Homo sapiens: one gene and its partners. The protein of the gene in region 1 binds, or shares a complex with, the protein of each later gene. Each region holds a gene or a part of one and is shown on either strand. Other genes may lie near its edges.

What was found.
Region 2: TAF4 (region 1) and TAF3 share a complex: the UniProt entries of both Homo sapiens proteins name them as parts of the TFIID basal transcription factor complex.
Region 3: TAF4 (region 1) and TAF5 share a complex: the UniProt entries of both Homo sapiens proteins name them as parts of the TFIID basal transcription factor complex.
Region 4: TAF4 (region 1) and TAF11 share a complex: the UniProt entries of both Homo sapiens proteins name them as parts of the TFIID basal transcription factor complex.

Annotation. Positions count from the first base shown.
Region 1 is NC_000020.11:61,974,263-61,978,914, reverse strand, and holds the end of TAF4 (transcription initiation factor TFIID subunit 4), read left to right. Parts: intron 1-2,579; coding exon 2,580-2,747; 3' UTR 2,748-4,117; downstream 4,118-4,652. UniProt on the Homo sapiens protein: The TFIID basal transcription factor complex plays a major role in the initiation of RNA polymerase II (Pol II)-dependent transcription.
Region 2 is NC_000010.11:8,003,505-8,010,504, forward strand, and holds part of TAF3 (transcription initiation factor TFIID subunit 3), read left to right. Parts: intron 1-5,573; coding exon 5,574-5,826; intron 5,827-7,000. UniProt on the Homo sapiens protein: The TFIID basal transcription factor complex plays a major role in the initiation of RNA polymerase II (Pol II)-dependent transcription.
Region 3 is NC_000010.11:103,370,943-103,378,010, forward strand, and holds part of TAF5 (transcription initiation factor TFIID subunit 5), read left to right. Parts: intron 1-2,415; coding exon 2,416-2,653; intron 2,654-7,068. UniProt on the Homo sapiens protein: The TFIID basal transcription factor complex plays a major role in the initiation of RNA polymerase II (Pol II)-dependent transcription.
Region 4 is NC_000006.12:34,878,043-34,885,042, reverse strand, and holds part of TAF11 (transcription initiation factor TFIID subunit 11), read left to right. Parts: exon of another isoform or gene 1-1,605; coding exon of another isoform or gene 1,606-1,644; intron 1,645-1,962; coding exon 1,963-2,111; intron 2,112-4,666; coding exon 4,667-4,754; intron 4,755-4,979; coding exon 4,980-5,076; intron 5,077-6,322; coding exon 6,323-6,453; 3' UTR 6,454-7,000. UniProt on the Homo sapiens protein: The TFIID basal transcription factor complex plays a major role in the initiation of RNA polymerase II (Pol II)-dependent transcription.

The DNA of each region.
Region 1 (4,652 bases):
TTTTAAGATTTAAGAAAAATTTGAAGAAAAATTTGTATTGATAAAACTCACAGAATCTGGAGAAGTTATATTGTTCATTCATAGTGCACCTTCAGAGCTTGGTGCAGAAGCAGGGCCTGGCATCAGTTTCTCAGCGTGCTGGGCCCTGGGGGTGGCCTCAGCCCCAAGGAGGCACCGTCTGGCCTTGGTTGGTCTCGCCCCCTCCCTTGGTTGGTCTCGCCCCCGGCCTTGGTTGGTCTCGCCCCCGGCCTTGGTTGGTCTCGCCCTCGGCCTTGGTTCGTCTTGCCCCCGGCCTTGGTTGGTCTCGCCCCCTCCTTTGGTTGGTCTCGCCCCCGGCCTTGGTTGGTCTCACCCCCTCCTTTGGTTGGTCTCGCCCCCGGCCTTGGTTGGTCTCGCGCCCTCCCTTGGTTGGTGTCGCGCCCTCCCTTGGTTGGTGTCGCGCCCTCCCTTGGTTGGTGTCGCGCCCTCCCTTGGTTGGTCTCGCCCCCTCCCTTGGTTGGTGTCGCGCCCTCCCTTGGTTGGTGTCGCGCCCTCCCTTGGTTGGTGTCGCGCCCTCCCTTGGTTGGTGTCGCGCCCTCCCTTGGTTGGTGTCGCGCCCTCCCTTGGTTGGTGTCGCGCCCTCCCTTGGTTGGTGTCGCGCCCTCCCTTGGTGTCGCGCCCTCCCTTGGTTGGTCTCGCGCCCTCCCTTGGTTGGTCTCGCGCCCTCCCTTGGTTGGTCTCGCGCCCTCCCTTGGTTGGTCTCGCGCCCTCCCTTGGTTGGTCTCGCGCCCTCCCTTGGTTGGTCTCGCGCCCTCCCTTGGTTGGTCTCGCGCCCTCCCTTGGTTGGTCTCGCGCCCTCCCTTGGTTGGTGTCGCGCCCTCCCTTGGTTGGTCTCGTGCCCTCCCTTGGTTGGTGCTGACACTTGCGTTAGAATATCTTGATTTCTTACCCTCGGCAGCCTTTAAATTGAGCACCTGAGATGAGCGTCTCTCCTTCACCCCGGTCCTCTTTTTTAGCTGCTGAACTATTTTGAAGATAGAAACATCAAACACAGTCCGGAATTTATAGCAGGTGTCACTGGGTCACACAGCCTGTTTGGGTGGTGCCTGTGAGAGCCCTGCCCTCACCCTGCAAACTGTCACTCACCTCGCCTGAGTTCTCTTTTGGGAGGCCTGGCCCTCAGGTGCGGATCACTTTATAATGAGCTAGTGTGGAGTGCGGAGGCTTCAGTAGCAAAGGGACCCCGGGCAGGTCTGAAGAAGGGCCCTCACAGCGCAGGGCGTCTGAACGGAGACAGGTGCCCTCATCTGTTTGAATCTCACAGGAATAAAGAAAATGCAGTGGGTCAGAGACACACTTGCATGCCATCACACAAGGCAGCCATGCTCCCAGCCTGAACTGAAAGTGGCAGAACGGGGAAGGGGGGAGGAAGGACGGCATGAGGGGCGGGGCCATGTCAGGGCTGTTCACAGCAAGGCTCCCACTGGCACACACAGCAGAATCCGCTCCTTCCAGCATCTTAACTTTGGTTGAGAATGTGCTGTAAAGATGCCATCGTAATCTTTGTACTTAAATATATGTGAGCAGCTTTCACCATCGGAGCAGAACTTAGTTTTCATGCCAGCTGGGGGAAATGACAGCTGTTGGGAGTTGTGTGGCACGTGCCCCGCTGGGCGGTGTCGTGTGTGTGTGGTGCGCGCCCCGCTGGGCGGTGTTGTGTGTGTGTGGCGCGCGCCCCGCTGGGCGGTGTCGTGTGTGTGGCTCGTGCCCCGCTGGGCGGTGTCGTGTGTGTGGCGCGTGCCCCGCTGGGCGGTGTCGTGTGTGTGGCGCGTGCCCCGCTGGGCGGTGTCGTGTGTGTGGCGTGTGCCCCGCTGGGCGGTGTCGTGTGTGTGGCGCGTGCCCTGCTGGGCGGTGTCATGCAGGTGTCATCAGCTGAAACCGCCAGAGCTCTCCACAGGAGCTGGCACGCAGCAGCTATGCTTCTCCAAGCAGGAACACATCTGAGGCAGCTCGGGAGACACCTGGTCACCTGTAGGGGCTGACGGAGGCGGCGTCTGTGCAGCCAGGGCCCAGCCAGAGGCTCAGGGATCACTGTGGGAGCCACTGAGAAACCCAGCCTTCCCAGCTGACCCAGCATGCCCAGTCCCAGCCAACCCCAGGCCTCCCAGTGCAGGAATTCAGCAGCCAAGCGGGGATGACACACACAGACCTAGTGTGGCTTTTGTGCCCCAGCTGAGTCCACAGGCAGTCCAGCTGTGGTCACATGGAGGGTGGCCCTGGGGCCGCTCAGCCATTTGCCTTGGGTGGGTGCCACCCCCTAGTCCATCCTCAGCCCCAGGACCAGGTCCAAGCACTGTGGGGCATTGGGCAGCATCTGAGTGTGCCCTGTCCTGAAGGTGCAGCATGGGGCCTCCTGCCCTTGCCCCTGCCCTGGCAGGGCCCTGGACAGCACCCCAGCTCCAGCTGTGGGCCTACCGGAAGGAGCCCGTGCCAGGCCTGGCCTCCTCTGGAATCGGGGTACTTGGCTCAGATACACAGGCTCATTGCAAGCCCCACTCTGAGCCCCACTAACACACTGTCTTCTCCTTTTTCATCACCAGGGGTCGGGCCCCGGCTCAGTGGTCCCAGGCAGCTCGGGTGTCGGAACCCCCAGACAGTTCACGCGACAAAGAATCACGCGGGTCAACCTCAGGGACCTCATATTTTGTTTAGAAAATGAACGTGAGACAAGCCATTCACTGCTGCTCTACAAAGCATTCCTTAAGTGACACAGGAGGACGCCTGGGGACTTTTTATATATTTGCAGATTACGCCTTTTTGTAACGAGCAAATGGGATATTGTTTAAAAAACAGCCACCTCTTTACAATGGAACAGTTTTATATTCCTGTTTCTAAATCAGCTCTTCAGTGTGAAAGAAAACACGTTTCTGTAACAGAGAGAACACAAAGGCCTGTGGATACTCTTAAAGGACAATTAAATCTTAACTCATCTTGATTGAGTGGCCTTCCTGCCAAACAAGCCATATATAAAGACTGATGGAATCGTTAGCAAATAATTAGCTGCCCTCTGTCAACTCATAGCAGTTTCTGCATTATTTGTGCATTTTGGTTTAGTTCTACCTAACTTACTATGTAGGTGTATGTCTACAGCCGATGACCTCATTTCGTTTATTTTATTTTTGTAATAGTCAGTTGGCAAAGCAAACTGATTTTTTAGACTATTTATCTTCCTTCCCTTCCCCTCCCACCCCGCTCTCCTCTCTGCCCCCTGCCCTCCCCTCCCCTCCCTTCCCCTCCACTCCGCTGAGAATCCTGGAGGAATACACAATTCATCGTTGCACCCCCACCTCAGAGTGTAATCGCATTTCTGCTTGGTAGAGGCCGAGCCCAGCAAAGGTGGCTCCTTCTGAATGTGTGGTCAGCATCTGTACAAATGCATTTTATTTGCTATAGTTTGTAAAGCTGTAAAGTTAAAAGAGATGAAAACCTTTTCAGCATAAATATATTTTACTTGCACTGTGTTTTTTAGCTAAAAGTGAAAACCTAGATTAAATAAAATCAAAGTTGAGAAGAATCATCAAAAGACTGTTTCTCGGTGTGAATCAAGTGTTGAAAAATGGTTGGTGTATTTTGTCAGTAATTGTACATAACTTTTGGCACATGACATAGAAATGGCTATGTAAACTATAATTATTTTGCTAAGAGACTGTATGCAAGCCTTGGGCCGACTTTACAGACGTCCAGAGCAAAGCCCCTTCTTTGTACCTATTTTTTTATTACAAATATACTAATTGGTTCTTTCTATTTTCAGAGGTTATTGTATGAAATTGTCTATTGATAGTACTTTTATGACTGTAAATACTCTGGCTTTCTCCGTGTGAATTCTCACATTAGACTTTAATTCGAGCGCGTGTGAACTGAACGCTGATCAGTATTTTTTATCAACACCTGAGAACTGTTACACCTTTTATTTTGTCTTTTAGGAAATCCCTGTCTTTCCATTTTTTCATGTAAATTTTGCACAGTTACTTGTTCATATGTAAATATTTTACTTTCAGAAATGAAGTTTTTAATTGCTATTGTTTTATATAGGATTGAAAGAAAATTAACTCCTTTATTAAAAACAAATTTATCTGTATTTGTTTTGCCTATTTTTCCTCCGTTTTCCAGTTTTAGATTCTACTGCCAGATTGCACTCCGGCTCTGCTGAGGTGCTGGTTTCTGAGCCACCTGTTGGAATCTGTAGCTGAGCCCCATCAGAGCCGGGAGAAAGAACTTTCTCTGTGAGGACAGGGGCCGAGCTACTCTCTGCGTGGAGTCTGGGGGCTGGCGGCTGCGCTTAACACCTTCTGCTGTCACAGGTGGAGATGAGCTGGGCACAGCTAGGAGGGGCGGCGGGAGGCCCAGTGCTGGGGGAGATGTACACAGAAACGCACGTGGCGAGCCCGGCTGAGGTGCCCAGAGGGCCCCAGCCTTGACGCAGACCTCCTGTGGCGAGAGAGGGCGTCTCCAGGGCAGTTTGTGGTATTGGTTGGTCCTGACAGGTCACAGCTCCTGCTGGGCCCTCAGAGGCTCAGCGCCAATGTGTACCGCTCCCTGCCTTCGAGCACCTTGGAGAGCCTTTGGGAACGGTCTCTGATGCAATTGGAGTTGGTCTCCCATTGTGACGTTCA
Region 2 (7,000 bases), on another chromosome or scaffold:
ATGCATGGGTAAATTTTGTGTTCATAGTGCTAAACAGAGCAATAAATTTTAATGTAACAGAATATGAATGTCTGTTGATATGATTTCAGATTACACATTGCAACCAACTTATAAGAAACTATCATTTGTTGCATTTAATGCAGCATTAAAGAAGAACTTACACCATTATCCAAAAAATCTTTTAAAATACTCCTCCCTTCTCTAGTTACATATGCCTACATTAAAGAGATTTGCAAAAATTTAAAACATTGCCAGTCTTGGCCAGGCACAGTGGCATGCGCCTGTAATCCCAGCTATTAGGTAGGCTGAGGCAGGAGGATTGCTTGAGCCCAGGAGTTCAAGACCACCCTGGGCAACAGAGCAAGACGCCATTATCAAAGAAAAAACAACCAAAACATTGCCAGTCATTACCAAGTTTTTTGTCTTGGAAAATATAGTTATTTTCATAAAAAAAAATGTTATCTGTTAACATATAATGGGTTCATTGTCGTTACTTTTAAATGAATTACTAAATATTTTTAAACTTTTCAGTTTTATTTTTATTTTATTTTATTTATTTTTTTTGAGACCGATTCTTGCTCTGTCACCCAGGCTGGAGTGCAGTGGCATGATCACGGCCCACTGCAACCTCTGCCTCCCAGGTTTGAGTGATTCTCCTGCCTCCTCCTCTGGAGTAGCTGGGATTACAGGTCTGCGCCATCACACCCAGCTAATTTTTGTATTTTTAATAGAAATGGGGTTTCACCATGTTGGCCATGGTGAATCACTCCTGGCCTCAAGCGATCCACCCACCTCGGCCTCCCAAAGTGCTGGGATTACGGGCATGAGCCAATGTGCCTGGTCCAGTTTTATTTTTAATATGGTAAATATTGACAGATATAGTGCACATTTTTTAAGTTCTTAATAATTTTTAGGAATTTAAAGGGGCCCTAGGACGAAAAATTTGAGAATTGTTGCTTTAGAATTTTTTTTTTTAAATGTGCTGGTGGCAAATTCTTAGCTTTTGCCTGCCTGTAAATGTTTTTGTTTCATCTTTATTCCTTAAAGATGTTTTCAAAGACATAATTTATTTTTCTTTAGCACATTGAAGATGTTATTCCACTATCTTCTAGATTTCATCATTGCTAATTAAGAAGTCAGCTGTCACCTGTTTCTTCTTTGAGAGGAATTGTTCTTTTTTCCCTCTAGCTGCCTTTCAGATTTTTCCTCTCTATCTATGATATTTTATAGCTTCACTTTGATGTGCCTAGATATAGATTTATTTTTATTTATCTTGCCTAGGGTGTGTTGGGCTTCATAAATCTGTGGATTGGTATCTTTCGTCAGTTCTGTAAAAGTCTCAGGTACTCTTTGTTAACATTCGTCTCTGCCCCATTTTTCTTCTAGAATTATGATCAAACATGCACTAATTAGACCTTTTATTGTATTCTCTTTGCTTCTTAGGCTATGCTCTGAAAATTTATTTTGTCCTAATACTCAGTTTATAGTTCTGTCTTGTTTCCAATCTGTTGTTAAATCCCTCCTTTCAATTTTAAATCTCAGTTACTGTATTTTTTAATTTCTAGAAGGTCTGTTTGGTTCTTTTCAAATCCACTAGATCAAGTCACTCTCTGTGACTTCCTACGACCTATATTTCTAGCCTTTGCCTTTTATTATTTTTTTAACATTGTAAGCAAAGTTGTTTTATAGTTGATAATTCTTGTATCTGTGGTCTTTGTCTCTTCATACTAGCTGTTATTTCTTAACAGTTTTCCCTGATCCCACCTTACTTCCTCATAGATTTGATTATCTTTGATTATGTGCTGCTTATTTTTTTTAAAGATAATTATCTGTATTAATATGAGACCTAGATTTTAAGATACTTCCCCTCAGGATTGTGCTGTGTGCCTGGGCACATTGCAAGTCCAAATTACTTTAAAGTATCCTAGAACACCAGAGGTGAAAATTCATGCCATTCTCGTGCATCTTTACCTTATGGGTATAGCCCATTGGGAATCCTTAGTGTCGGGAGGGAGTTCTATTACACCTTCCACTTCGGGCAGATCCTGGGCTTTGACATTCGTCCTCTTCATCATAACCAAATATCAGACTTGCCTAATGCGTAAATGCCCTTGGGGTAAAGCATCTGTGTTCTGCTTACCTCTCAGGGTTCCTGCTTTTCCCTTTAGCTTTGGTTCCATCACTTGTGTGTTCAACCAGTATGGGAAACTGCCTCTAGAAGCAGTGTTTTAAAATTTTAGTCTAACCATAAAAATAGAGAATGCTTACCCTCTGGATATAAATGCCATAGCGATAACTTTGAACTCCTACATTACATGCCTTTTATGTAAGGCAAACCTCAGTACACATTGAGAGACAGTGTCATATACTTATTAAGATCACAGGCTCTAAAATCAGACTGCCTTGTTTAAATCCTGGCCCTGCCATGTAGTAGTAACCTGTGTTAATTTATGCAAGATACGTAATCTCTCTGTGCCTTGGTTTCTTCGTTTAAAAAGCAGAATAATAGCTTGCCTCATGTGGTCATTATGAAAAACAAACAAGGCCGGGCACCGTGGCTTACGCCTGTAATCTCAGCACTTTGGGAGGCTGAGGTGGGCAGATGACCTGAAGTCGGGAGTTTGAGACCAGCCTGCCCAACATGGAGAAACCCCGTCTCTACTGAAAAAAAAAATACACACACACACACACACACACACACACACACACACACACACACAAATTAGCTGGGCGTGGTGGTGCATGCCTGTAATCCCAGCTACTTGGGAGGCTAAGGCGGGAGAATCACTTGAACCCAGGAGGCGGAGGTTGCAGTGAGTCAAGACTGCGCCATTACACTCCAGCCTAGGCAACAAGAGTGAAACTCCATCTCAAAAAAAAAAAACCTAGATAAGGCAAGGCAAGTAAATATTTAACACAGTGGTGCCTGGCCCACAATTGGCTTTCAAGTGCTTAGGACAGTCAGACATATAGAAAGTGCTCAATAAATATTCATCGGTTATGATGTTAAGCATTTATGAAGTGTCTGCTGCACCAACAAGCCTGTGCTAAAGTCTCTTGATCTTTGGCTGTATCCAAGTTAGGAAGATGATCACCCTTGCAGGAAACAAATAGAGAACAATTCGACAGCAGTAATGAAGTTACTTGCTGAAATAATGGTGAAGTTTTTGAAGTAACTTAATGTTTTATGAATTTATGATCAGAATAGCAAAGAGTCAGTGCCTTTTGGTGAAAGTGGTTTCTAAACTAGGACTATGAGGAAGTGGAACCGTGAAGGCTGGCAGCAATGAGGCCAGAGGCTGTCGTGAGCAACAGCCGTGAACATGGCACGGGGCCGGCAGTTCCCATCTGGATGCAGTTTTTGAAGTGTTTCTCCACATTGAGGTTCTCACTACAACCCTCTGAGGCCACTGCATTTCTTTTCACTTTGTTGCTGAGAAAAACAAGGCCTAAAGAATTGTGTGGAATAGTAGAAAGAGACAAGCTGGGACAGTCCACAGGCTGGCAATTCCTGGTGAGGTGAGGATGGCCATATTCCATGGCCCAGAAACTTCATTTCTAGGGATGGGGCTTGGAGAAGTCCTTGAACAGTTCTATTTATGAGTCAGTGTGTAAGTTTACAAGTGAATGTCTCCTACTTTCAGTAGGATGATGGACAAAAACCTTTGGCTTACTAATACCATGGAATACAATATAGTAATTAGAATAAATAATATAGATCTCTATGTGTCAGCATGGATAAATCAGGAGACATAAAACTAAGTGGGAAAAGCTAGTTGCAGAGGACAACTGGAGTGTGACATTGTGTGTATAAAAGTTAAAAGACAGCAAACAGTAATGCAGTATGTATTGTTTATGGACACCTACAAAGGCAGGAAAGGTACAGAGAAAAAAACAAAGTACCAAGAACAATAAACAAAAACATACCTGTCTTAGGGCAGTGGTTGCTCTGGGGCAGGGAAGGAAGTTCATCTGAAACAAATATGGCAAAGGCTAACATATTTTATCTCTGATTATTACCTAACTGTCTGTTATATTGTTTTCTCTGTGTGTGAAATTATATATATATATATATATATATATATATATATATATATATATATATACCTTTTTTTTTTAATAAAGAAGCTTAAAAACAAGCTTTGGAATCAAGTAGACTTTGGTTCAAAAGCTGCCACCCGTTTACTCAAATTCCTTTCTCTTGCTGATCTTCAGTTTCCTCATCTACAAAATGGGGTAATCATTACTTCTTTGATGTTCTCATAAGGACTGGATGAGATGATGTTTGTAAAGTGCCTAGTATAACCTCTAACTTCTTATAGGTCCTCAATAAATAGTGCTTTTTATAATAAATTGAGTAATCCAAGGCCACAGGTCTAGTCTCTGGCGGCTGTAGAATTTGAACTCAGATGTCCTGGCCCCAAGTCCAGAGCTGCTTCCACTGGCGAGAGTTGTGTGAAGAGGATGCTGTTAGTGGAGGAGCAGGGTCACAGTACCACAGCTCTAGCGACCTGCGGCAGCATCACCAGGACAGAAGCTGCCGCTGCATTACCTCCTCCTTACCTCTGCAGCCCGTCTGGGAACAATCTTTTTTTTTTTTTTTTTTTTTTGAGACGAAGTCTCACTCTGTAGCCCAAGCTAGAGTGCAGTGGCGAGATCTCGGCTCACTGTAACCTCTGCCTCCTGGGTTCAAGCGATTCTCCTGCCTCAGCCTCCTGAGTAGCTGGAATTACAGGTGCACGCCACTGCACCCGGCTAATTTTTTGTATTTTTTAGTAGAGACGGTGTTTCACCATGTTGGCCAGGCTGGTCTTGAACTCTCGACCTCAGGTAATCCACCCACCTCGGCCTCCCAGAGTGCTAGGATTACAGGGGTGAGCCACCTTGCCCAGCCTGAACGGTCAATCTTTAAAACCTGGCAATCAAAGCCAAACCCAGAAGTGAGAAAGTCTTCACAGTTTTATTGACAATGGCATTGAGAGTATTAAGAAGAAACATTGGAATTAAGAAGAGAGAAATAGAAACTTTTTCTTTTTAAGCTGCTCTGTCCAGCAGCTTAGGCCAGGTTAGGTTTATGGTAATTAACAACCCAAAAATCTCAAGGGCTTCCAACAGCAAATGTGTCTTTCTTGCCCATCTCCAGTGTGGAGCACAGGCTGCTCCAGGTCCTCTCCAGCTGGAGCCACAGTGGAAGGAGCAGCCCCTGTCAGGCCCCCCCGAGGACTCAGCAGAGGTGGGGGTGGGGAGCGCCACCTCTGAAGCCGTCAGAGCTTCTGCCCCAGCACAGGAACAGGCAATTGAAGTCATATTTCTGTGAACAATGCATGTGTATTGGTTGCTAGAAATTTCTAACTGTCTGGCCATTGAGGGGAAGTTTGGAAAATGAAAAATTCGTCTGAGTAAGTGGAGAGGCCACTTCATGCAGGGCCTGGAACTCAGTTCTTGAGCTGCCTCTAGACGTTGAAGTATTTCGCTACTGGAAGAAAAGCTATTTTACGATCATGTTTTTAAGCACGGGTTTGGTTCGATGATGATCCTGTTTTGACTTTTACCTTCTCTTCTTTTGTTGACAGTGTCATCAGCAAGGTGGTCCCTGCCCCCGAGGCCAAGCCGGCGCCCTCGCAGAACAGGCCGAAGACCCCACCGCCGGCCCCCGCGCCCGCCCCCGGCCCCATGCTCGTCAGCCCTGCGCCCGTGCCGCTGCCGCTGCTCGCCCAGGCCGCCGCGGGCCCTGCCCTGCTGCCCTCCCCGGGTCCCGCCGCCTCCGGGGCCAGTGCCAAAGCCCCCGTGCGCAGCGTGGTGACTGAGACGGTCAGCACCTACGTGGTGCGTACCTGCCGCCCGCGCGGTTAGCATGGAGACGTTTTCAGATCGAGACAAGTGTGTGCTCTGAATCACTATCGAATTTCAGACGCATTTCTCTTCAAAATTTTATTATTTACTTAATTATTTTTGAGACAGGGTCTCCCTGTGTGGCTCAGGCTGGAGTACAGTGGCCCAATCATAGCTCACTGCAACCTCAAACTCCTGGGCCCAAGCGATCCTCCTGCATTAGCTTCTCAAAGTGGTGGGGTTACAGGCCTGAGCCACTGCCCCTGGCCAGACACGTTTCTTTTTTTTTCTTTTTTTTTTTTGAGACAGAGTTTCGCTCTTATTGCCCAACCTGGAATGCGGTGGTGAGATCTCAGCTCACTGCAACCTCCACCTCCCAGGTTCAAGCGATTCTCCTGCCTCAGCCTCCTGAGTAGCTGGGATTACAGGCACGTGCCACCACACCTGGCCAATTTTTTGTATTTTTAGTAGAAACGGTTTCACCGTGTTAGCCAGGCTGGTCTCAAACTCCTGACCTAAGGTGATCCACCCGCCTCGGCCTCCCAAAGTGTGGGATTACAGGCATGAGCCACCGTGCCCGGCTTTTTTTTTTTGAAAGGGGATTTCACTCTGTCACCGAGGCTGGAGTGCAGTGGTACGATCTCGGCTCACTGCAGCCCCTGCCTCCCAGGCTCAAGCGATCCTCCCACCTCTTGAGTAGCTGGGATCACAGGCAGTCACCACCACTCTCGATTAGTTTTTTGTATTTTTGGTGGAGACAGGGTTTCACTATGTTGCCCAGGCTGGTCTTGAGCTCCTGAGCTCCAGCAATCCACCCATTTCTGCCTCCCAACGTGCTGAGATGACAGGCATGAACAACCATGCCCAGCCAAGATGCATTTCTTCATTGCAGTTTTTCACTGCATTTTCAAGCTTTTGGCTGAAAAGTTACATCACAATGTTCACATAGTCAGCCTCCATAAATCATATCAAAGCTTGTTTTTATATTGTTTTGGGATATGACTATATGCATATATACAGTAATATCAATCTGTAAATGTAGAGACGCATGGTGGTACTGAAATCTCACATTGAATTTCTTGATCAAGCAATTCAGTTATTCACTTAAGAGTATAATTTATAGAATGTACACTGATATTATGAGCCAGGTAGTGTTTCTGAATAATAG
Region 3 (7,068 bases), on another chromosome or scaffold:
TGCAGATGTGATTGAAGGCCGGGCTCGGTGGCTCACGCCTGTAGTCCCAGCACTTTGGGAGGCCAAGGCGGGTGGGTCACTTGAGGTCAGGAGATCAAGACCAGCTTGGCCAACATGGTGAAACCCCATCTCTACTAAAAATACAAAAAAATTAGCTGGGCGTGGTGGCATGTGCCTGTTGCCCCAGCTACTCAGGAGGCTGAGGCAGGTGAACCACTTTAACCCAGGCGGCAGAAGTTGCAGTGAGCTGAGATCAAGCCATTGTGCTCTGGCACGGGTGACAGAGCAAAACTCCGTCTTTACAAAAAAAAAAAAAAAGAGAGAGGAATCTTTTTTGAATGTTGAATTTTGTGAATGAACTATAAGATGAATTATATTGTTGGTTATTTTGCTGTAATCTCAGATCTCTTCAGAAACTTGACCTAATTATAGATCATAACTGAGAAATCAGTAAGGAGGAAAAGAGGCCATCAGAGTAACCAAAGAAATTATCACATTTCTGCAGTAAAGAGCAAAGTGTACTATAATGGCAACTTACAGAAATTTCCAACAACCAAATTCTGATTTAATTGACAGATTAATTGACTGATTTAATTGACAGATGTATTGTTAGGTGGTGCTGTATTACCAATAAATACTTACGTTTTCTGTTTTGAAGTGGTGGTTATGGAAATTGTCTTAAGCATATAACTATCTTTTGAAGATATAAATAAGGCATGGTCCTTCCCACCCTTAAGTACTTACATTTTGTAAGGGGTAAGAGATGTATATAATGTGAAGGGAACACAGGATAGGATATGTTACAAGAATGTTACACAGTGCTTGGGTGGCCCAGAGAGCTGGGAATGTTACTGCAGTGCATGGCTTGGTCGTGGTGGGTGCCATTTGCACAGAGCATTGAGAGAAAGTTAATGTAGTTGTTTGATTTGCACATATCTTTTATACAATTTGTCTTTAACATCAGGTAGTTCCAGGAGAAATACTGACTCCTTGTTATTGTTTTTTTTTTTTTTGAGACGGAGTCTTGCTCTGTCACCAGGCTGGAGTGCAGTGGAGCGATCTTGGCTCACTACAACCTCTGCCTCCTGGGTTCAAGTGATTCTCATGCCTTTGCCTCCCGAGTAGCTGGGATTACAGGCACGTCTCATCACACCCAGCTAATTTTTGTATTTTTAGTAGAGACGGGGTTTCACTATGTTGGCCAGGCTGGTCTTGAACTTCTGACCTTGTGATCTGCCCGCCTCAGCCTCTCAAAGTGCTGGGATTACAGGTGTGAGCCACCGTGTTGGCCTGTTATTGTTATCTTAAGATATGGGTGTGCTGATGGGTTTCGGTTTGGGTGATGAAACAAGTGAAAAAAATTCCATTAAAAGATTATGGCTGGGCGCGGTGGCTCGTACTTTTTTTTTTGAGATGGAGTCTTGCTCTGTCGCCCAGGCTGGAGTGCAGTGGCGCGATCTCGGCTCACTGCATCCTCCACCTCCCGAGTTCATGCCATTCTCCTGCCTCAGCCTCCCGAGTAGCTGGGACTACAGGCGCCCACTACCACGCCTGGCTAATTTTTTGTGTTTTTAGTAGAGACGGGGTTTCACTGTGTTAGCCAGGATGGCCTCGATCTCCTGACCTCGTGATCCACCTGTCTCAGCCTCCCAAAGTGCTGGGATTACAGGCGGGAGCCACCGCACCCGGCGGCTCATACTCGTAATCCCAGCACTTTGGGAGGCAGGTGGATCACTTGTGGTCAGGAGTTTGAGACTAGCCTGGTCAACATAGTGAAACCCCGTCTCTACTAAAAATACAAAAATTAGCTGGGCATAGTGGTGCATGCCTGTAATCCCAGCTACTTAGGAGGCTGAGGCAGGAGAATCGCTTGAACCCGAGATGGGGAGGTTGCAGTGAGCCGAGATTGTGCATTGCACTACAGCCTGGGCGACAAGAGTGAAACTCCATCTTAAAAAGAAAAAAAAAAAAGACTACGTGGGCCAGGTGTGGTGCCTCATGCCTGTAATTCCAACACTTTGGGAGGCCGAGGCGGGAGGATCACAAGGTCAAGATATCAAGACCATCCTGGCCAACATGGTGAAACCCTGTCTCTACTGAAAATATGAAAATTAGCTGGGCATGGTGGCACACGCTTGTAGTCCCAGCTACTTGGGAGGCCGAGGCAAGACACTCGCCTGCGAGGTGGAGGTTGCAGTGAGCCGAGATCTCCCCACCGCCCTCCAGCCTGGCGACAGAGCCAGACTCCCTCTCAAAAAAAAAAAAAAAAGATTATGTGATTGTGTTGAGGAAGAGACAGTGGGAAGAAAGAGACAACAGTCTGAGAAACAACTCACCTGTGGGCTTTAACAATACAGCCATAGTCACATGGTCATAATAGGTCATTTTCTTAAAAGTTTTTTGTTTTTTAAATAGTTGGAAGTGTTGCTGTGGAAGACCAGCCAGATGTCAGTGCCGTGTTGTCAGCCTACAACCAACAAGGAGATCCCACAATGTATGAAGAATACTATAGTGGACTGAAACACTTCATTGAATGTTCCCTGGACTGCCATCGGGCAGAGTTGTCCCAACTTTTTTATCCTCTGTTTGTGCACATGTACTTGGAGCTAGTCTACAATCAACATGAGAATGAAGCAAAGTCATTCTTTGAGAAGTATGTAAATTTTTACATATATATATATACACACATACGTAGTGTGTGTGTGTGCGTGCATATGTTTTCACATCTGTAACCACAAAAATGTAAGACTGCAACTTAAAAAGTACGTTGTGAAGGAGAGGTACCTGAGGCTATGAGAACTTAAAATGTGGGGTTTGATCTAGCTGGAGAAGTCAGAGAAGGCTTCCAGAGGAAATGATACTTGAAGTGAGATTTGAGATCTGAAGATTAGGTAGGAGTTAACCAGATGAAGAGAAGAGGGAAAAGCATGTGTAAAAGCTCTCTGGTGGGAAGGATCCTGGTAGGTACAGAGGCTGAAAGATGGCCAGGGTAGCTGGAGCAGAGAATGGGATGGGGGTGTGGTATACTATGAAGCTGGGAATTGGTTAGGGACTGGAACAGTAGGCAGGTTCTATTGTTAAAGTGAAGGCATTGAAAAAAAAGGATAGGCAGGTTTTTGGGCCATGTTGAGGGTCTTTGTTTATCCTAAGAGCAGTAGGGAGTTGTATTGGATAGGATTAGATTTGGTTGAGAGTCACTGAAAACTCATCAACAATGGCATAAATAAAAGTTTATTTTTGCCTTTATCTTAAGAAAACTAGGAAGCAGTGTTAGGATTCGATTAGAATAAGAGTAACTGAGAACCCAAACAACAGAGGTTTAAATACAATAAAAGTTTGTTTATTTTTCTCGTAAATGTGGGACATTCGGGATTGGTGTGGTGGGTTCTTCATTACCAGGGCCCCAAGCTCCCTCGGTCTTGTTGCTCTCTCATGCTTTTCATGCAATTTCCACCTTGTGGCATAAGATGGTTTTCCTGCTCTAAGCAGTCACATCAGTGTGCCAGTCAGCAGGTAGGGCACACGGAAACTGCACACACTTCTTCCTTTTATATCTTAACAGTCAGTGGCCACACCTAGCTACAAGGGAAATAAGAAATGTAGTCTTTACCTAAGTGTCTATGTGCCCAGCTGATATTCAGGTTTTCTTTTATGGAGGAAGACAGGAAAAATGGATATTTGGGGAGAGCGAAGCCTTTTTGCTACAGAGTCATTTCTGCTACAGAGTCATTAAAGGACCATGTCGTTATTAGATATATACTTTGAAAGGACCTTTATGCAGTGGGGAAAACAAATGGGGGATAGAATGACTATAGGGACAAGTTTTGGAAGTTATTGCAGTGGTTCTCAACTGGAGGTGGAATTGCTCCTTCCACTAGACCATTTGAAAATGTGTAGAGGTGGCCCGGCGCTGCGGCTCACGCCTTTAATCCCAGCACTTTGGGAGGCTGAGGCGGGTGGATCACTTTGACCTCAGGAGTTTGAGACCAGCCTGGTGAGACCTAGTCTCTTCAAAAAAATGCAAAAATTAGCTGGGTGTGGTAGCTCACTCCTGTAATCCCAGCTATTTGGGAGGCTGAGGCTGGAGAATCGCTTGAACCTGGGAGATAGAGGTTGCAGTGAGCTGAGATTGCATCTCTGCACTCTAGCCTAGATGACAAGAGTGAGACCCTGTCTCAAAAAAAAAAAAAAAAAAAAAGAAAATGTGTGGAGGCATTTTTGGTTGTCATAATGACTGGGCGGAGGAGCAGGAATACTAAATGTTCTAATATGTGCACCTAGGTAGTCCCACTTTACAAAGAATTATCCTGCCCAAAATGTTAATAGCACCCTTATTGAGAAGCACTGGACTAGGTTGTGGTGGAGGTGAAGAGAAGTAGACAAAGTCATGAGACACTTGATAGATTGGCTAGGGAGGTGAGGGAGATGGAGATATCATTGAAATCTCCAGTTTTCTGGCCGTTCTAGCTGGATAGGGGAGCCAATTCCTGACACAGAAAACCCTAGAAGAGGACTTGATTTGTCAGCCTTGGAATAATTTTGAGTTCTGATTTGAATATGCCTTTGACTCATTTAAGAAATGTCAAGTTGATAGGTAGATGATATATGAGAGCTCAGAACAGAGGTAGGGACTAGAACTATTAATTGGAGTTGTGTGCAATATTGATGGATATGGATGAGGTTGACTAGGGGAGAGTATGAAATAAGTCAGTCAGTGGGCTAGGCCCAAGGAGCTCCAAATTTAATGGCCAAGTAGAAGAGATACACAGGAAGAAAACCAGGGGAGGGCTGAGTTATAGAAGCCAAGGGAAAGGAGTATTTAAGAAGGAGGCAGGCTGGGTGTGGTAGCTCATGCCTGTAATCCCAGCACTTTGGGAGGCTGAGGTGGGCAGATCACCTGAGGTCAGGAGTTTGAGACCAGCCTGGCCAACATAACAAAACCCTGTCTCTACTAAAAATACAAAAATTAGCCGGGCGTGGTGGCAGACACTTGTAATCCCAGCTGCTTGGGAGGCCGAGGCAGGAGAATCACTTGAATCTGGGAGGCAGAGGTTGCAGTGAGCTGAGATTGCGCCATTACACTCCAGCCTTGGCGAAGAGTGAAAGTCTATCTCAAAAAAAAAAAAAGGAGGCCGTGCTTAGCAGTGTGAATAATTTTTTTTTTTTGAGATGGAGTTTTGCTCTTGTCACCCAGGCTGGCATGCAGTGGCGCCATCTCGGCTCACTGCAACCTCCGCCTCCTAGGTTCAAGCAATTCTCCTGCCTCAGCCTCCCAAGTAGCTGGGATTACAGGCATGCATCACCATGCCTGGCTAATTTTGTATTTTTAGTAGAGACAGGGTTTCTTCATGTTGGTCAGGCTGGTCTTGAACTCCCGACCTCAGGTGATCTGCCCACCTTGGCCTTCCAAAGTGCTGGGATTACAGGTGTGAGACACTGGGCCTGGCCTGAATGAGAAATGTTTAATACAAGCAACAGAGCCTGAAGTCAAGATTTATCACTTAACACAGGGTAGTAGTAATAGAGGAACAGTAGAACTTAGCACCCCTGGCTTCTATGCCATTATAGTAAATTCATTATATTAGGATGCCTAATAGGAAGTATATAAGGCAAAATGTTCTGTAGCCAAGTGCTTTTGAAAAAAAAAAAAATAAGAAAGGCTGATGACAGAACTTCTACCCTAGAAGCTAATTTCTCTTTAAAGTACTGTCATCTAAACACTCCATCCTTGGCAACATAGATACTGTCACTTAAAAAAACAAAAACATAGCCTGGGCAAAAGAACGAGATCCTGCTTCTACAAAAAGTAAACAAAAATTGAGCCGGGCATGGTGGCTCATGCCTGTAATCCCACACTTTGAGAAGCCAAGGCGGGCAGAATGCCTGAGCTCAGGAGTTCGAGACCATCCTGGCCAACATGGTGAAACCCCATCTCTACTCAAATACAAAAGATTAGCCAGCCATGGTGGCACGTGCCTGTAGTCCCAGCTGCTCAGGAGGCTGAAGCATGAGAATTGCTTGAGCCCTGGAGGTGGAGGTTGCAGCGAGCTGAGATCGCGTAAACAAAAATTAGTGGAGTATGGTGGCACAGCAGTCCTAGCTACTCGGGAGACTGAGGCAAGAGGAATCCCTGAACCCAGGAGTTTCAGGCTGCATTGAACCACTGCACTCCAGCTTAGGCTTCAGAGCAAGAACCTGTCTCTAAAAAAGAAGGAAAAACCTTTTTGCTCTTCCTGTCTCATGGTGTAGCTGTCTCCCCACATAGGAAGCTGGAACGTCATAGGGGATTCTCTGTCTTCCCATTATGGACAGTCTCACCCCTTGCCAGGACCCCATCACCACAGGAGGATAATGGGCAGTTACTGATATAAGAGGCTGAGATTTCTAATTTTATTCAAATCTTAGATCATATATTGATGAGTTGTAATGGGGTAACATAGTTAACAGTTTAGAAATCTGTTGACTATGTGCTTATCAGAGCTGGAGCCCTAATATGTTTAGTCATTGTTTTAAAAATGTTTTTGCATTGATTGCTGTTTTTAGTGAATGCCAAATATATTGTCTTTAATTTTATTTTCTTAGGAAAATTAAGCGTTGTAAAAACAAAAGTACATTTAAGTTTACTAGTTGTTATCAAGGCTAAAGGCTTTATTTTATTGTCTTTGGTAATAGTTGTTGATACCAAACAATGAGTACTTCCACTTTGTTGTTTAGTGATCATATTAAAGTATTGATATTTTAAAAATGTCTGGTACATGTTTCCAATAAATATAGGAAATCATTAAAAATGATGGGTTTTATGAGAATGTTATATATTGATTATTGTTGAGATGCTGAGTACTGTGTACATTGAGTTCATTATACTCTTTTTTATGCCTTTGAAATTTTCATAATAAAACTTTTAAAAGTGGGTTTTGAGAAACCATAACATTTAGTAAAGCAAGGGTTCTTATATTTTCAAATGTCTACCAGTTTCTTTTAAATGTCTCCATTCTAAAGAAACTGTCTACCAATGGTGGGTATATTATTTTTCACTTAGGATATTTAAGTTCTTTTCTTAAAATGTTT
Region 4 (7,000 bases), on another chromosome or scaffold:
ACTAATGAATTAGCACATTAAAAAACATAAATGATAAAATTAAAACATTATTTAAAATGTAAATGTATAACATTACAAAATATGAAAGGCTATAGGCACTAATATGGAGATCTTTAAAGTTATAAAGACATTTAATGTTCAAGTTTAGGCCAAATAAATGTGAAAATCTGAGAAAAATAGGTGATTTTTTAAAGGAAAATACAAACCACCAAACTTGAAGCACAGTTAGAAAACTTGTATAAATCAGTAACTAAAAAGAAATTGAAAAGATTGTCAAAGATAGACTACCTTCATCCCACCTATTCCCATATTCCTGTATGAGTTTAAATTTGAATTCCTCTTTAGGGACAAGTTAAATCTCATTAATGAGTTTTGTAGTATACTTAAGATTCTACATTAAGTCAGAGGGGGTGAAGTTTGGATTTGATTTTTATTATTAAACAGCCAGTTTTTTAAGTTCAGGGGTACATGTGCAGGATGTGCAGGTTTTGTTACATAAGTAAATGTGTGTCATAGGGGTTTGTTGTATAGATTATTTCATCACCCAGGTATTAAGCCTAGTGTCCCTTAGTTATTTTTCCTGATCCTTTCCCTCCTGCCACCCTTCATCCTTCCATATACCCTTCACCCTTCCATATACCCCAGTGTGTGTTCCCCTCTATGTGTCCGTGTGCTGTCATCATTTAGTTCCCACTTATTAGTGAGAACATGCAGTATTTGGTTTTCTGTTCCTACATTAGTTTGCTAAAGATAATGGTCTCCAGCTCCATCCATGTCCCTGCAAAGGACATGATCTCCTTTTTTATGGCTGTATAGTATTTCATGGTGTATACTGGAAAATACATTTTCTTTATCCAGTCTACCATTGATGGGCATTTAGGTTGATTCCATGTCTTTGCTATTGTGAATAGCACTGCAATGAACATAAGTGTGGATGTGTCTTTATAATAGAACAATTTATATTCCTTTGGGTATATACCCAGTAATGGGATTGCTGGGTCAAATGGTAATTCTGTCTTTAGGTCTTTGAGGAATTGTCACACTGCCTTCCTCAATGGTGAACTGATTTATACTCCAACCAAGAGTTTAAAAGCTTTCCTTTGCCTCCACAACCTTGCCAGTATCTGTTATTTTTTGACTTTTGAATAATAGCCATTCTGACTGATATGAGATGGTATCTCATTATGGTTTTGATTTGCATTTCTCTAATCAGTGAAGCTGACCTTTTTTTCACATGATTGTTGGCCACAGGTATGTCTTGTTTTGAGAAGTGTCTTTGCCTACTTTTAAGTGGGGTTTGAACAGGCATTTATTAAACATCCAGCATAAGTAAAATTGCATTAAATGCTGATGGGGGGGAGATATAAATAATAAGAGACAAACCTATCTTCAAAAAGACTAGTAATGTGAAATAAACATTTGCATGAAACAGTAGGATTGAAGAATAAGAACAAAAGAGCACTACGTGTGAGAAGCTCACTTGAAAGTCCCAAATTGAAATAAACACTGTTTTGATGAGAAGGGGCCTCCTTTTTAATATTCTTTCCATGTGGAATCATCAGCAGTAAAGAGATCTATAGATCTGGAAGCAGAAGAGCTGGCTGGATGGAGGGGACTTTGCTGACATCCCCTCTGAAAAATAAGGTCAGAAGAGTGGGCCCGGGGGAGGGTGATTTTCATGATCCATGGCATTTCATTACCCTTGTAAACAGATACTGGAGCTGTGCTCATAGCCAAACTGGAAAACTAGATTATTTAGCAGGTTTTCTTTCCATAGCTGAGCCATAATCTTCCCTTAGGAGAGATACTGTATCTTATCCTTGATGGTACAGTCAGTGCCTAGAACTGAAAAACTACTCAATAAATGGATTTGTTGTTTTGTGATAAGGATGATGTCTTCTTACTTTGCCCAAGCCTGGAAAGTAGGCCAAATATATAATAGAGTTTCTTTCATCTTCCCAGCTCGAGAGTCAGGATGTCTCAGATTTAACAACAGTTGAAAGGGAAGACTCATCATTACTTAATCCTGCAGCCAAAAAACTGAAAATAGATACCAAAGAAAAGAAAGAGAAAAAGCAGAAAGTAGATGAAGATGAGATTCAGAAGATGCAGTAAGTCACTTTCTTATCATTCCCCATTTCGAGGCTCTCACTTGACCACACAAATTTAATAAATTTTTCTTGGTGTTTAAATTTTCTTTTATAAACTCAAAAGAAAATAAAACGATTAATACATTATGGCTGGGCATGGTGGCTCACGCCTGTAATCCCAACACTTTAGAAGGCCAAGGTGGGAGGATTTCTTGAGGCCTAAGTTTGAGACCAGCCTGGGCAACATAGTGAAACCCTTTCTCTAATGTTATGTTATGTTATGTTTTTTTTTTTATTTTTTATTTTTTTGAGATAGAGTCTCACTGTGTCGCCCAGGCTGGAGTGCAATGGTGTGATCTCGGCTCACTGCAGCCTCCACATCCTGAGTTCAAACGATTCTCATGCCTCAGCCTCCCGAGTAGCTGGGACTACAGGCATGCACCGCCATGCCCAGCTAATTTTTGTATTTTTAGTAGAGACAGGGTTTCACTATGTTGGCCAGGCTGGTCTTGAACTCATGACCTCACGTGATCTGCCCGCCTCGGCCTCCCAAAGTGCTAGGATTACAGGCATGAGCCACTGTGCCCGGCCTCTATTTAAAATTTTTTTTTTTTGAGACAGAGTTTCGCTCTCGTTGCTCAGGCTGGAGTGCGGTGGTGCAATCTCTGCTCACTGCAACCTCCGCCTTCTGGTTTCGAGCGATTCTCCTGCCTCAGCCTCCCAGGTAGCTGGGACTACAGGCTCCTGCCACCATGCCTGGCTAATTTTTGTATTTTTAGTAGATACAGGTTTTTGCCATGTTGGCCAGGCGGGTCTCGAACTCCTGACTTCGTGATCCGCCCGCCTCAGCCTCCCAAAATGCTGGGATTACAGGTGTGAGCCACTGTGCCTGGCCAAAAACAATTTTTTCAAATAATTATGTTACAGCATAGAAAATATAAATAGATAAAAAGAAGGCCGAGATCGGTGGCTCACACCTGTAATCCCAGCACTTTGGGAGGCTGAGGCGGGTGGATCACTTGAGGTCAGGAGTTTGAGACCAGCCTGGCCAACATGGTGAAACCCCGTCTCTACTAAAATTACAAAAAATTAGCCAGGTGTCGTGGTGGGTGCCTGTAGTCCCAGCTACTCGGGAGGCTGAGGTAGGAGAATTACTTGAACCCAGGAGGCAGAGGTTGCAGTGAGCCAAGACTGCGCCACTGCACTCCAGCCTGGGCGATAGAGCCAGATGCTGTCTCAAAAAAAATAAATAGATAAGAAGAAAAAATAATTACCTTACCACAGAGATATATCCTGCTTATAAGTTTCAAGATAGTTTCTATACATATATATCTATAAATTTTTTTTTCCACAAATGTCAAATACTGTTTTGTAGCCTATTTTTCACATTAGATATGGTGAATGTTTTCCATGTCACTAATTATACATCTAGGTCATAGTTTTCTTAAAAATAGAAATAGCTTTATTACATTTTCTGATTGTAAAAGTAGTATGGGCTCATTGCAAATAATTCAGAGAATACAGAAAAATAGAAAAAAATCACCCATAAACTCACCACGCAGAGTTCACTCTAAGTATATAGTTGGGTATAATGTTTGGGTATGTACCTTTTCAAAGTTTTTTTAGATGTTTGATATGTATAGCTAAATATTTTCATGTCAGTAAATATGCTCATAAATCATAATTTTTAATGGCTACATTGTATCCCATTATGTTGTTGAACTATAATTTAACCAATCCCTATAGTGCTTCTGGTTGGGTATTTTTACTTTTGACATTATGATGAGGATCTTTGGACATATCTTTGCATACTTGTCCATTACTTCCTAAGATAAACTCCTAGAGGTGTAATTGCTAATTCAAATAGTATGAACATTTTCAAAGGCTTTTCATATGTATTTCCAAATTTCTCTCCAAAAAGGTGTTCCAGTTCACTCTGCCAGCATGTGTTTGTGTCCCATATTCTAATACCATTCTTTTTTTAATAGTGGTCTGATTTATGAAAAATGTTATCTATGAAAATAATATTTCCTTAGTTAATAATGAAGGTTGTTTCCCCCATGTTGATTGACCATTGGTATTTTGGTAAATTTCCTGTTCATGTACTTTGTTCATTTTCAAAAATTGACATGGCCCCTTTATTCATTTGAAAGAATTATACATTAGGAGTATTAACTGTTTCCACATATTTTGCAGATATTTCCCCTAAATCTGTTAATGTTGAAAACTACTGGTTTGATTATAAATTTGTATATTAAATTTTTACCATCAGTGTGAAATTCAATAAGATAGAGTTATGGAGATAGTGTCTAATGCTGCAAACAGTCTGTGTAGTACGATACAGTGACCCAGTGTTGTTCTTTTTGTTAACAGGTAAGAAAAGAAGTTTTTGTTTTACGTTTTCTCAAATTCCTTTGGAGTAGAAGTGTTTTATCTTCATTCCTCAAGGCACCAAGCCTAATGCCATTGACCCCTTTAAGAATTCGTTTTTGAATTGTCTGAAACTTTTATTGACTTCATAATATCTTGAGTATTCGTTCTTATAAGTTAACTTAGTTACCTGGATCTTTGTTTAGAATCCTGGTTTCTTCTTTTTCTGAGGAGCAGCTGAACCGTTATGAAATGTATCGCCGCTCAGCTTTCCCTAAGGCAGCCATCAAAAGGGTAAGGATGGACCACCACACTTCATCTCCATCACGTTTTAGAACTGAACTCAAGAGCCATGTCCATTGGCATTTGAAGTGAGGTGTTAGACAAGTCAGGGGATTATTTAGGTGGGAAAAAAAATGCACTTCAGTTATCTTACCTTTTTCTGTGAATTACTTGGTACTGTGTTCCAAAGCCAGTCTTTGACTATTGTGATCACGGAGTCTTTGTGCTTCTTTCAAGCTGATCCAGTCCATCACTGGCACCTCTGTGTCTCAGAATGTTGTTATTGCTATGTCTGGTATTTCCAAGGTTTTCGTCGGGGAGGTGGTAGAAGAAGGTGAGTAGTGTTGGTTACAAATACTGGATTGTACCTGTGGTGGTCTTATTTTTAAGAATATCTACACAAAGGAGCTTATTAAAGCACCTATGGGAGTTCTCATTTGCACTTGAAGTTGACCAAGTGGGGAGCCCTTTATTTAGGAGAACATGACTGTTATTCCTTGCAAGTTTCAATAACAGATGGTAAGGAACCATCTGGGAAATCCCCTCCCTGATTCCTTTCCTCAGCCCAGGGTGAAAGAAGTAGACTTTGTATTTTCTGCAGTGGACTTTGCTCATTTCTGCTGCCAAAAGTAAAGATACAAGAAAAGCAATCACAGGGGTGACCTGTGTGGGATGGTGAGTTGTCCCTAATGTTGTGATCCCTAGGAACTGCCTGACCCCTTTATTGAGTAAAAAGCCTGGCTGTTTCCCATTGCTACTCTAGCTGGTGAAATTTTTTTTTTTTTTTTGAGCAGGAGATATATACTTTTAAATTATTATTATTTTTTGAGACAGGGTCTCACTCTGTCACCCAGGCTGGAGTGCAGTGGCATGATCTTTATTATTTTTTTTAATATTTTTTATTTTTCCTTTTACAAATCACAAATTAAGATGGTATACAAAATGAGATGGTAACAGTGGTGTGATCATAGCTCACTACAACCTCAAACTCCTGGGCTCAAAGGATCCTCTTGCCTCAGCCTCCCAAGTAGCTGGGACTGTAGGCGTGCACTACCATACCTGGCTAATTTTTAATTTTATTTTTATGTAGTTATTTGAGACAGGGTCTCACTCTGTCACCCAGGCTGGAGTGCCTTGATCATGCGATCACAGCTCACTGTAACAGTTAGCTCCTGGGCTCGGGTGATTCTCCTGCCTCAGTCTGAGTAGTTGAGACCACAGGTGCGCACCACCACCCCTGGCTAACTTTTTAATTTTTTGTAGAGACAAGGTTTGGCCATGTTGCCCAGGTTGGTCTCGAACTCCTAGGCTCAAGCAATCCTCCCACCTTGGCCTCCCTAACTGCTGGGATTATAGGCATGAGCCACAGCATATGGCCTATAGGAAATATATTTTAAACTGTTGTCTATGATAAAGCCTGTTATGAGACGTTATACTAATATTCTCTTAAAAAGGAAAAATGTCTGTTTATTTCCTTAGCAAGCTTAAGAAAAGTTAACAAGAATTACAGGACTCAAAAGGATTATGTGATTAGTAAATTATTGTGTGATAATCAGACTTTCTCCTTACCCTCTGTTTAGCACTGGATGTGTGTGAGAAGTGGGGAGAAATGCCACCACTACAACCCAAACATATGAGGGAAGCCGTTAGAAGGTTAAAGTCAAAAGGACAGATCCCTAACTCGAAGCACAAAAAAATCATCTTCTTCTAGACCAAAGTCTAGAAAGGCCTATGTTACTGACGGAAGAAGTATTGGTTCCAGACTTCCTATAAGACTGTCTGCATTGGTGCTTTAGTATCTCAGGCCTCCAAGGATTCCATGATGATTTTAATGTCTTTCTCAAAACTCTGATATTTGTCACACCTAGAAAGTATGTAGCCTGATTGATACTTGCCTTGACTAAATTTTGGGACCTCTTGGGGCATTTTGAAGTATTTAACTGTCTTGACCAGTTGGAAGAAGATACGTGGGCCATAAGCATCTTCTGGACAGGGGAACTGCTTTCAGAGAGAAAACCTTTCCAAGAGAGTTTTGTTTTGTTTTGGTTTCGTTTTGTTTGAGATAGGGTCTTGCTCTATCACCTAGGCTGGAGTGCAGCGGCATGACTGCAGCCTTGAACTCCTGGGCTTAAGTGACCCTCCCACCTCAGTCTCCTGAGTAGCTAGGACTACAGGCACACACTACTGTGCCCAGCTAACTTATTTTTATTTTTTATGGAGATGGGGTCTTGCTTTGTTGCCCAGGCTGGTCGTGAACT